Linked DNA regions of Homo sapiens: region 2 is linked to region 1. Evidence: fine-mapped expression QTL. Tissue or cell type: whole blood. Region 1 holds a variant in brackets; the other region holds the start of a gene. All regions are shown on one strand. Distances are from middle to middle.

What was found. PIP is the estimated chance that this variant, and not a neighbour inherited with it, causes the effect.
Region 2: it holds the start of CDC26, and the variant in region 1 is fine-mapped to the expression of CDC26 in whole blood (TOPMed, PIP above 0.99).

Annotation. Positions count from the first base shown.
Region 1 is chr9:113,206,080-113,211,250 of GRCh38, forward strand. FKBP15 (FKBP prolyl isomerase family member 15) reads right to left here. Exons shown (of 28, transcript NM_015258.2): 3 at 1,133-1,217; 4 at 430-499. Among named protein-coding and RNA genes, the nearest start is that of FKBP15, 13 kb to the right of the region's middle. The variant GCA/G (reference allele first, on the strand shown) is at 2,679.
Region 2 is chr9:113,273,237-113,278,411 of GRCh38, forward strand. CDC26 (cell division cycle 26) reads right to left here and starts at 2,336. Exons shown (of 4, transcript NM_139286.4): 1 at 2,146-2,336; 2 at 93-202. PRPF4 (pre-mRNA splicing tri-snRNP complex factor PRPF4) reads left to right here and starts at 2,422. Exons shown (of 14, transcript NM_001244926.2): 1 at 2,422-2,534; 2 at 3,312-3,489. The coding sequence starts at 2,508. RefSeq lists enhancers at 1,447-2,302, 2,070-2,409.

The DNA.
Region 1 (5,171 bases):
TGGTTGCTCAATCAATACTGTGAATGCAATTAATGGCACTGGATTATGCACTTAAAAATGGTTAAATGGCAAATTTTATCTTATATATACATATGTATGTGTATATATATGTGTGTATTTGTGTATGTGTGTGTACACACGCACCCCACAATTGAACAACAAACAAACAAAAAAATGCCCAAATTCTTAAGCTAGGATCATATCACAAAGGTCAAATTTAACAATTTTGAATGGTTGGATTTGTTTTAACGCACAATAGTAAGCAAAATGTGATCATTTACTATATGCTTGATGTTATAAATTAACATTCAATACAAATAATCATCCTTATCTTCTGATAAACAAGACATCGGGCAAGCCAGATAAAAGCCAGCTCATTGGTATTATTTGGGACATCTGAATATACATGAGATGTGGGAGCACTCTCACCTCTCTGGCTGTGTGGTTCCCCAGAACTGCAGCACCAAATTTGCCCTGCTTTACATATTGACCATTTGTGCTATAAAAGGAAGAGAAACAACAAGTATTAATACTTCCCTAAATTCTGCAGAACCAGCTTTCTTTTCTGTCATACAGAAGTGGGAACAACAGTCATTCAGCCTCTAGGCAGGGACACAGGTGAGCGGTTTAAAATTTTTTTTTTTTTTTTTTTTTTTGAGACAGAGTCTCGCTCTGTCACCAGGCTGGAGTGCAGTGACATGATCTTGGCTCACTGCAACCTCTGCCTCCCAGGTTCAAGCAATTCTTCTGCCTCGGCCTCCCAAAGTGCTGGGATTACAGGAGTGCGCCACCGCACCCGGCCCAGCAGTTTATAATTTAAAGCTCATATACTATTCCCTTACTCTTTAAATATAAATATCTATCATTCATGCTATCTCAGTGGAGAGGCTTTCTTTGAGCATTTGACAGCTGTTGAGGGTACAAGCACTCCCTAAAGACAGTAGACAAGATAATGGCTTTTCAAGTTTTACCACAGAAATCTCCAATTCAGATGTTAAAAGTTCTACTGATATTTTGTCCGTGGAAGGGCTAAATAACCGTTTTGCAACAAACAGAGGTTTTTCGAGAAAAAGTAGCTTAACTGCACGCCCTTCCACCAAACTTCAGAGGGTGTTCCTTCTCAGCGACTTACTATCGATATGCATGGACTGCTGTTGCGACCAGTATTGTGGGAGTGCTCATGGTGGCTGGTGCTGTTTTTGGTGTTGCCTGATTTCCTGAAGATGAACAAGAAAACAAAGTTGTCATTCACTTCTTGCTTTAAACTAATTTTTTTTAAAGACGGAGTTTCACTTTGTCACCCAGGCTGGAGTGCAGTGGCGTGATCTCGGTTCACTGCAACCTCCACCTCCCGGGTTCAAGCCATTCTCCTGCCTCAGCCTCATGAGTAGCTGGGATTCCAGTTGCGTGCCACCACATCCGGCTAATTTTTGTATTTTTAGTAGAGATGGGGTTTCACCATGTTGGACAGGCTGGTCTTGAACTCCTGACCTCGTGATCCACCTGCCTCAGCCTCCCAAAGTGCTGGAATTACAGGCGTGAGCTACTGTACCTGGCCTTAAACTAATTTTTAACCACTGAACTAGCTTCAAAATTGATCTTTATAATTTACAGTCAGTGTTGTAATGCTTTTATGATTATCCTTATTTGATCCACAAAGCAGCCCTATGATCTAGTCTGGGGGTGAAGAAACTGAGGTTCTAATCACCCAAGTGCCTCACACAATTATACCATGATAGTGCCTAGGTCTGAAACCCATGACTCCAACTCCCAACCCACACACCCCAAATAAGTCTTTGGCTAGACAAGGAGTACTGTCTAAAAAGTGATAGTCCATCTATTTTATTTTCTCCTTCCAGTATTTTGACAGCTATAATATATGAAAATAAAGTTATTTCCCCTTCCCTGTCTTCTAGGGTGGGAAATTCAGTAAGATATTTAAATCACACCCATTAATTAACTTCACAAAGTACTACAGAGTAGGCTGGGCGCAGTGGCTCGTGCCTGTAATCCCAGCACTTTGGCAGGCCGAGGCAGGTGGATCACGAGGAGTTCGAGACCAGCCTGGCCAATATGGTGAAACCTTATCTCTACTAAAAATACAAAAATTAGCTGGGGGTGGTGGCGCGCACCTGTAGTCCCAGCTACTCATGAGGCTGAAGAGGAAGAATCGCTTGAGCCTGGGAGGCAGAGGTTGCAGTGAGCTGAGATCGCACCACTGCACCCCAGCCTGGGTGATGGAATGAGACTCCGTCTCAAAAAAAACAAAAAAACAACAAAAAAAAGGGACTACAGAGTAACACTAACATTTTCAAATACCATGTTAAGAGTAAATCACATTTATACTCACTATATGAATGTGATGGAAGAGTAGTGAGATAATACTGATGCGGACATGACATGCAAGAACTTATATTTTGAAAGAACTCGTTTGATTTTTTCTGTATTAACACTTTTTTTTCTGATTATAGAGTACAAGTGCATTGTAGGAAACTTAGAAAATACAGAAACACATAAATTAAAATGCAACATTTTTGTGTGTACTTCCAGTTATCTTCTTATAATAAATTCCTTAAAATGGAATTATGGGGTAAAGGAGTATAAAAAATTTAAGGTTTGGTTACATCCTGTCCAACTGTTCCTCAGGCTGGACGAGATGGCTCACACAGGTAATCCCA[GCA/G]CTTTGGGAAACAGAGGTGGGCAGATCACTTGTGGTCAGGAGTTTGAGACCAGTCTGGCCAACATGGTGAAACCCCATCTCTACTAAAAATACAAAAATTAGCCAGGTATGGTGGGTGCACCTGGAGTCCCAGGTACTTGGGAGGCTGAGGCATGAGAATCACTTGAAACACAGGAGGCAGAGATTGCAATGAGCTGAGATCATGCCACCGCACTCCAGCCTGGGTGACAGAGCGAGACTCCATCTCAAAAAAAAAAAAAAAAAAAAAATTCCCTTGAACAGAGAGGGACTTCTGTATTGCTACTTTATTTATTTGTAAATGCCTAAAGAAAACTGTATAGGCAATCTTGCTTCTATAGCTCCCTGCTAAAAGTGTAATAAACTCATAGTTGCTGTCTTCTGATTTAAATAATCAAGTTAGCCAGGTGCAGTGGCCAGGAGTTCAAGGCCGTAGTGCACTGTGATGGCACCTGTGAATAGCCACTACATTCCAGCCTGGGCAGCAAAGCAAGACTCTGTTTCTAAAATTAAGTACAATAAAAAATAAAAATAAAAAACCAAGTGTTTTCATTGGGTGGGAACTAAGGTTGTTTCTTTTTCTCCCATTAACTCAACCACTTTAACTCTGAAGCACACTGCTGATGAAGAGATGTGCCACAGGAAATATAAAAGCATAGCCTACTAGAAATCTGGCCAGGTTATGAGTTGGAGAATAAGAGAAGCACCTACAGCAAAACTGCCTAAAGTAATAGGTAATATTTAAAGCAGGGATCGGCAAACATTTTCTGTAAAGGGCCTATAGGCTGTGGTATAATATGAAATATGTTTGGTCTTTGTCCTTGGTTCCTGACACACTGCTCCCAAATCCCTTGTAATTTCCTGAGTGATAAGAGTGGTAGGAACATCTTTTGTATAATCCAATTTTAGCCAGCATGATAAGGAAGGAAGTCTTCTCTGCTTTAACCTACACAACAAAAGTAACTTTGAAATGACCAATTGTTTTTTGTTCTGTTTCTGCTTTCTTCAGCACTTTTCTGCCTATAAAGCCAACCTCCTCTGCTCAGCTCATCACAACATTCCATTTTATAGAATGAAGTGTTGCCCAATTCTAGAATCTCAAATAAAAGCCAATTAAGATCTTAAAACTCCATGTGTTATAACTGTATCTTTTGACAATGCTAATGAGGTGACTTAGAGTGGGGCCCTAGAGGGGTGGAGGCTCAGGATGGAGCCTACAGCTAACCTGTCCAGATAAAAGAAGTGAAAAGTAGGTCTTCCTTCTCACCAAAACACTGGACAGTGCCTACTTAGAGTGCCTTGGACAGAGTTTGGGAGAGCGGTGTCCATATGGGGCAGAAGGCCTTGCTTTCGAACCTCTCCATCAGTTCCCAACAAAGCGCACGCTATCTAGCTGCTAGAAATCAGGATCCCAGATCTTAGAGAAGCACTCACCACTGGGGGTGAGCTTAGCCAGACTGGTCAAGGATACACAACCTGGCATGTCACTTTTGGAAGGCTGCTAACCCTTCCATCTAACCTGTTAAGGCACAATCCTAGTGCCAGTTGTGATGGCTTTTTTTTTTTTTTTTTTTGAGACGGAGTCTTGCTCTGTTGCCAGGCTGGAGTGCAGTGGCGTGATCTTGGCTCACTGCAACCTCCGCCTCCCGGCTTCAAGCAATTCTCCTGCCTCAGCCTCCCAAGTAGCTGGGACTACAGGCAAGCGCCACCATGCCCAGCTAATTTTTGTACTTTTAGTAGAGACAGGGTTTCACCATGTTGGCCAGAATCGTCTCGATCTCTTGACCTCGTGATCTGCTCACCTCGGCCTCCCGAAGTGATGGCTAATATTTAGTGTCAACTTGATTGGATTGAAGTACACAAAGTATTGTTCCTGGGTGTGTCTGTGAGGGTGTTGCCAAAGGAGATTAACATCTGAGTCAGTGGACTGGGAAAGGCAAACCCACCCTCAATCTTGTTGGGCACTATCTAATCAACTGCCAGCGTGGCTAGTATAAGGCAGGCAGAAGAAGGTGGAAGGGGCTGACTTGCTGAGTCTTCCGACTTTCATCTTTCTCCTGCGCTGGATGCTTTCTGCCGTCGAACATCAGACTCCAAGTTCTTTGGCTTTTGGACTCTTGGACTTACACTAGCGGTTGGCCAGAGGCTCTCAGGCCTGCAGCCACAGACTGAAGGCTGCACTGTCGGCTTCCCTACTTTTGAGGTTTTGAGACTCGGACTGATCCACTACTGGCTTCCTTGTTCTTCAACTTGCAGACAGCCTATCATGGGGCTTTACCTTGTGATCGTGTGAGTCAGTTCTCCTCAATAAACTCACTTTCACACATACGTATATTCTATTAGCTCTGTCCCTCTAGAGAACCCTAATACACTCTTGTTTTTATTTTGTTTCAGTTTTGTTTTGTTTTTTGAGACAGAGTCTCGCTCTGTTGCCCAGGCTGGAGTACAGTGGCTCACTGCAACCTCTGCCTCC
Region 2 (5,175 bases), 67 kb after region 1:
TTAATCTACCCTACATGAGAATTGTCAGAGATTTGTGATCACTCTTGAATGCTAAAATCAGTTTGCTAAATCTCAGGAAAACTCCAACTCACCAATTCACAGGATTATCCTCCGCGTCCAAACAGATCTTAAATGTGTACGTCATTCATTAAACAAACACTTCTTGTGTTCCAGCTACAAAGTTAAAAGGTACAGTCATAATCTGTGGGGAAAACAAAGAGAAAACTGTGATATCATGTAATGAGAACCCTGATGAGGATACTAGCACTGGCATCACACAGGCACCTAATCCAGTCTGGGCTGAGTGTGGGGTGGACAAGGATGTCAGGCAAGCCTTCCTGGAGAAAATGATGTCTTAGTTGACTTCTGAAGGTCAGGCAGAGAGAAGAATGCACAAGGAGGCTCAAGTACAGCTTTGGTAACGTAGCAAGACCCTGTCTCTACAAAAAAGTAAAAAAAATAGCTGGGCTGGTAGTGTGTACCTGTAGTCCTAGCTACTCAGGAGGCTGAGGTGGAAGGATCACTTGAGCCCAGGAGTTTCAGGTTGCCACCGTGAGCCATGACCTCACCATGAGACCCCAACTCAAAAAAAAAAAAAAAAAAAAAAAAAGGCTCAAGAGAGCATTCCACAGCCTGAAATCCCAAGGTAATACTATGTTAACAAAAACCATTTTGTTTTGTTTTGTTTTTGAGAAAACACAACCCCCCAACTGAGTTTAATATCTGTTGATGGCATCATTTGTATATTCTCCACAGCATCCCCTAGAGTGTATCTATAAAAACAGTCAGTAAATGTTTGTTGACTAGAAGGTGAGATCATTCTTGAGCACCGTGCTGTTTTTCCATTCCCATTCTTTACATTCTTATTTTAACACAAAAACCCTGTGAAGTTGACAAAATGATTCCTATTTCACACATAAAGAAGTCATCGAAGCAAGCTGTTCAGTTTGGTTAATAATTTTAGCCTCCTATAAAAATTATAAAGGTCAACATGATAAGCATTAAGTGAAAATGATGGAAGTGAAAACTCCTTGAAAGTATGTACAGATACAAATTATTACACGTATCTAGGATGAAACTAAGGACTGTGAAGTATACAAAGGAAGAAATAGTTCCTTCTCCCATGAAGCTTAGGATACTACAGGTGATATTATCAACACAAAACACTGGCACATTACATTTCAAATTCCTTTGTACTAAATCAGGCATTATCTTCTACCAGATTCCAATGCAGACAAATGGTAGAGAAAGCCAAAGTTCCAAAGAGGGAAAGAGAGGGATAGGGATACCTAAAAGGGGGAAAAAAAAATCTATACATTTTACCTTTTCTGCAAACTGCAAAAAACTGGCCACTAGGGAGCAGTATAGATTAACAGTTAAAAGTGCTGGCTGTAGAGGTTAAAGGGCACAGGTTTTAATCCCACTACACCACCGATCCTGAACAATTCGTTTCATTTCTCACTAGACCTTAGTTCCCTCATCTGTATCCTACTCTGCTGTTGTAGGAAGTCAATAACGTAATACAGAGTAAGCTCTTGGAATATTATTTGGCATTTAATAAATGTTCAATAAATAACATCTATTATTGCTGTAATTGTTCTAGGGGGTTGCATGAGGATCTGGCCAGCTAGGGAAACGTCAATATTTTGAGGATCTCCCACCGCCCATGTGGGGATAAAAACCTTATCCTGTTCGTCTCTAATGCCCCAGCATCCAGCAGGGCAGAGAGACGTACAGAGTTACCTGACACCTTCCTATCCATCATCTTACTCTCAATCTGATACAAAGACCAGGCTGAAGACAAATCAACAAAATCAGGCCGAAGCTCCTCCGCCGGGTCTTTATTTGACTTTGGCACTAGCGGGCTCTTCTAGCTTAATCTCCCGCCGCAGCCCAAATCCACCGCCGAGCCATCAAGCTCAGAGGGGGAGCCTGGGAAGACTTCCGGACCATGGAGGAGAACAGTCCTCGTCCCCTAGCTCCAGGCCTGTACCTCGGAGCCCAGGCAAGGGTTTCTATGGTAACATGGTCCTCGGCTCCAAGAAGACGTAAACGCCCCCGTACGCCCGGGGGGCACAGCGGACCCCGGAAGCCCTTGACTCGCTCCAGAGTTCAGCCCCGAGCCGCGCGAGTCGACTCACCTACCTCTTTTCAAGCCGGCCTAGCCCCTTCCCGGAACCTCGGCTCCCCCCCAACGAAACTACTGCTAAGCCAACTGGACTACACTTCCCAGACTGCTTGGAGCCTCTCTCTCCGCAGAACCTCGTCTTCCGCGAGCTTTTCCTGGAGGTTCTAGGAGGGATGCCCCTCAATGCCACGACGCCATTTCCTACTACGACTTCCATCATGCTCCGCGCCGCTCCGGGGGCGGTGACCCCTCTTGGCCCACGTCTTGTCAGTGACGCACTTCCTGTCAGTGACGCACTTCCCCTCTGCTGGGCGCGCGGTGGACGGTCTGAAAGGGAGTGTTCGGGTTTCGCTGGGGCCTCGCGGCTCCAGAGCCCAGCATGGCTTCCTCGCGAGCCTCTTCCACGGTACAGAGCCCGGGATCCCAGCTCACTCTGGCAGGGAGCGCTAAGGGGGAAGGGGATCTCTGCGGGAAGGGGCCGTTAAGGAGCGGGAGAAGGCGGTGGAGGGCTGAGGAGGAAGGCTGCGGGACTCAGCGGTGTCCTACACAGCGGACCACCGTTTTCCTGATCCCTAAGCGCTTTCGTGGACTGTAGCTTATTTGCACCTCTCCCACTACAGCCCCAAAGGGCAAGCATCTCTTCCGACTCATCCAGTAACGGTGCTCTGAAATAGGGAAGTGTCTTGGCCAAGGTTTATGCCTTTGGCAGATCTCAGAATTTTAATGAGACCTACTAACTCCTACTACCTCACGTCTAGGAACGTTTGAAATGTATACACTTGTAATGTTGTAACTTGTTATCCTTTAGCACCGCGTTGGTTATTTCATCTATCCTTAGTATTTCCCCAGTGATAAGCAGTAATCCGGGAAGCATAAAACACGAGATTGAACACTTCCAACGGAATGAAGTAAACAGATTTCAGAGCAAACCTTTCATAGGAAAATACCCGAGAGAACCTCACTAGTTTTATTAATCCCATCAACCAAAGTGAGGGACTGAAACACCCTCACCCTACCTTCACCTCCTCAAATCAATGAAGAGCGTCTTAAGTAGTGTCCAATTTGTCCTTTCAATTACAGAGGAAACAGGACTGTGAAACTCAGGGTGAGCTTCATCCTCTGGTGAAGTCCGGTAAATTGCCAAGATTAAACCTTAGTTTAATGCAGATCTTTGATTTAGCAGGCAACCAAAACTAAAGCACCCGACGACTTAGTTGCTCCGGTCGTGAAGAAACCACACATCTATTATGGAAGTTTGGAAGAGAAGGAGAGGGAGCGTCTGGCCAAAGGAGAGTCTGGGATTTTGGGGAAAGACGGACTTAAAGCAGGGATCGAAGCTGGAAATATTAATATAACCTCTGGTAAGATGCAAATTGTGAGCCCATCTTTACCTCTTTGTGTAATGAATACCTTTCTAAACTTAAATACCACAGTTTTATAATGTCAAAAAATTACAATTTTTTTTTTTTTAAACAGAGTCTCGCTCTGTCGCCAGGCTGGAGTGCAGTGGTGCGATCTTGGCTCACTGCAACCTCCGCCTCCCGGGTTCAAGCAGTTCTCCTGCTTCAGCCTCCCGAGTAGCTGGGATTACAGGCGCACACCACCACGCCCGGCTAATTTTTGTATATTTAGTAGATATGGGGTTTCACCATGTTGGTCTGGCTGGTCTCAAACTCCTGACCTTGTGATCCGCCCGCCTCGTCCTCCTAAAGTGCTGGGATTACAGGTGTGAGCCACTGTGCCCGGCAGAATTTCAATTCTTAAACTTGCAGCTATAAGGCTGTATTTTGCCTACCCCCTTATTATCATGCAGAGAGCCTTTTTCTTACAATCTGTTATATAGTTTTTCTTCTATGAGTGAGCAGTCTTATCAAAAATTCAGTGTACATTTGGATTCAGATTGATTCCATTTGTCTTCTGGAGATCTAACATAGTTCTGGCATTGGTTTGCAGCTAGAGTGGTTCATGATATTCTCCCTTTTGAAGTTTTGTAATTATTTTTTACCCAAAGTGAAATCTTTTTGTGTGTGTGTGTGTGTGTGACAGGGTCTCACTCTCTTGCCCAGGCTGGAATGCAGTGGCGTAACCTTGGCTCACTGCAACCTCTGCCTTTTGTGTTCAAGGGATTCTCCTGCCTCAGCCTCCCGATTAGCTGAGATTACAGGTGCCCGCCACCACACCCAGCTAATTTTTGTATTTTTAGTAGAGACTGGGTTTCACCATGTTGCCCAGGCTGGTCTCCAACTCCTGACCTCAAATGATCCGCCCACCTCGGCCTCCCAAAGTGCTGGGATTACAGGCGTGAGCCACTGCACCTGACTGAGCTATCTTTTTTTATTATAAAAGTAATAGTGGCCAAGCCTGGTGGCTCACACCTGTAATCCCAGCACTTTGGGAGGCTGAGAAGCGGGAGTCTGGCTTGAGCCCAGGAATCCAAGACCAGCCTGGGCAAATAGTGATACCCCATCTCTACAAAAAGTAGAAAATTAGCTGGGCATGGTGACACGTGCCTGTATTCCCAGCTAATTGGGGTTCTGAGGTGGGGGTTCAAGGCTGCAGTGAGTCATGACTGTGCCACTGCACTCCAGCCTGAACAACAGAGCGAGACCCTGTCTCAAAAAAAAAAGTTATTTTCTTTTAAAAGATCAATGTATAAATGTGTGAAGTAGAAAATCCTGTATTTTTAAAATTAATTGATTGTATATCTTTCTGAGAATTTTAATACAGCTAAAAAGTATGTAATTTTTTCCATAAATGAAAACACAATACGTAAATTGTTGTATAACCCCCATTTTTCATTTATATACCATTGAGGATATCTTTCCATGTCAGTAATGAGAGGTCTACTATATTTTAAAAATAAAATTATGCATATTTGTCCTAAGAAATTCAGACAATGCCAAAGGGCATAAAATGAAGACTCCTCTGCAGTAGGGACATCTGTCAGGTTTCTTATTGATCCTCCCACACATTTTCTAAACACATGCACTGTAGCCTAGTGACTTTTTAAACTTTTAATACTGTTTTTAAACATAACGTCACCACTG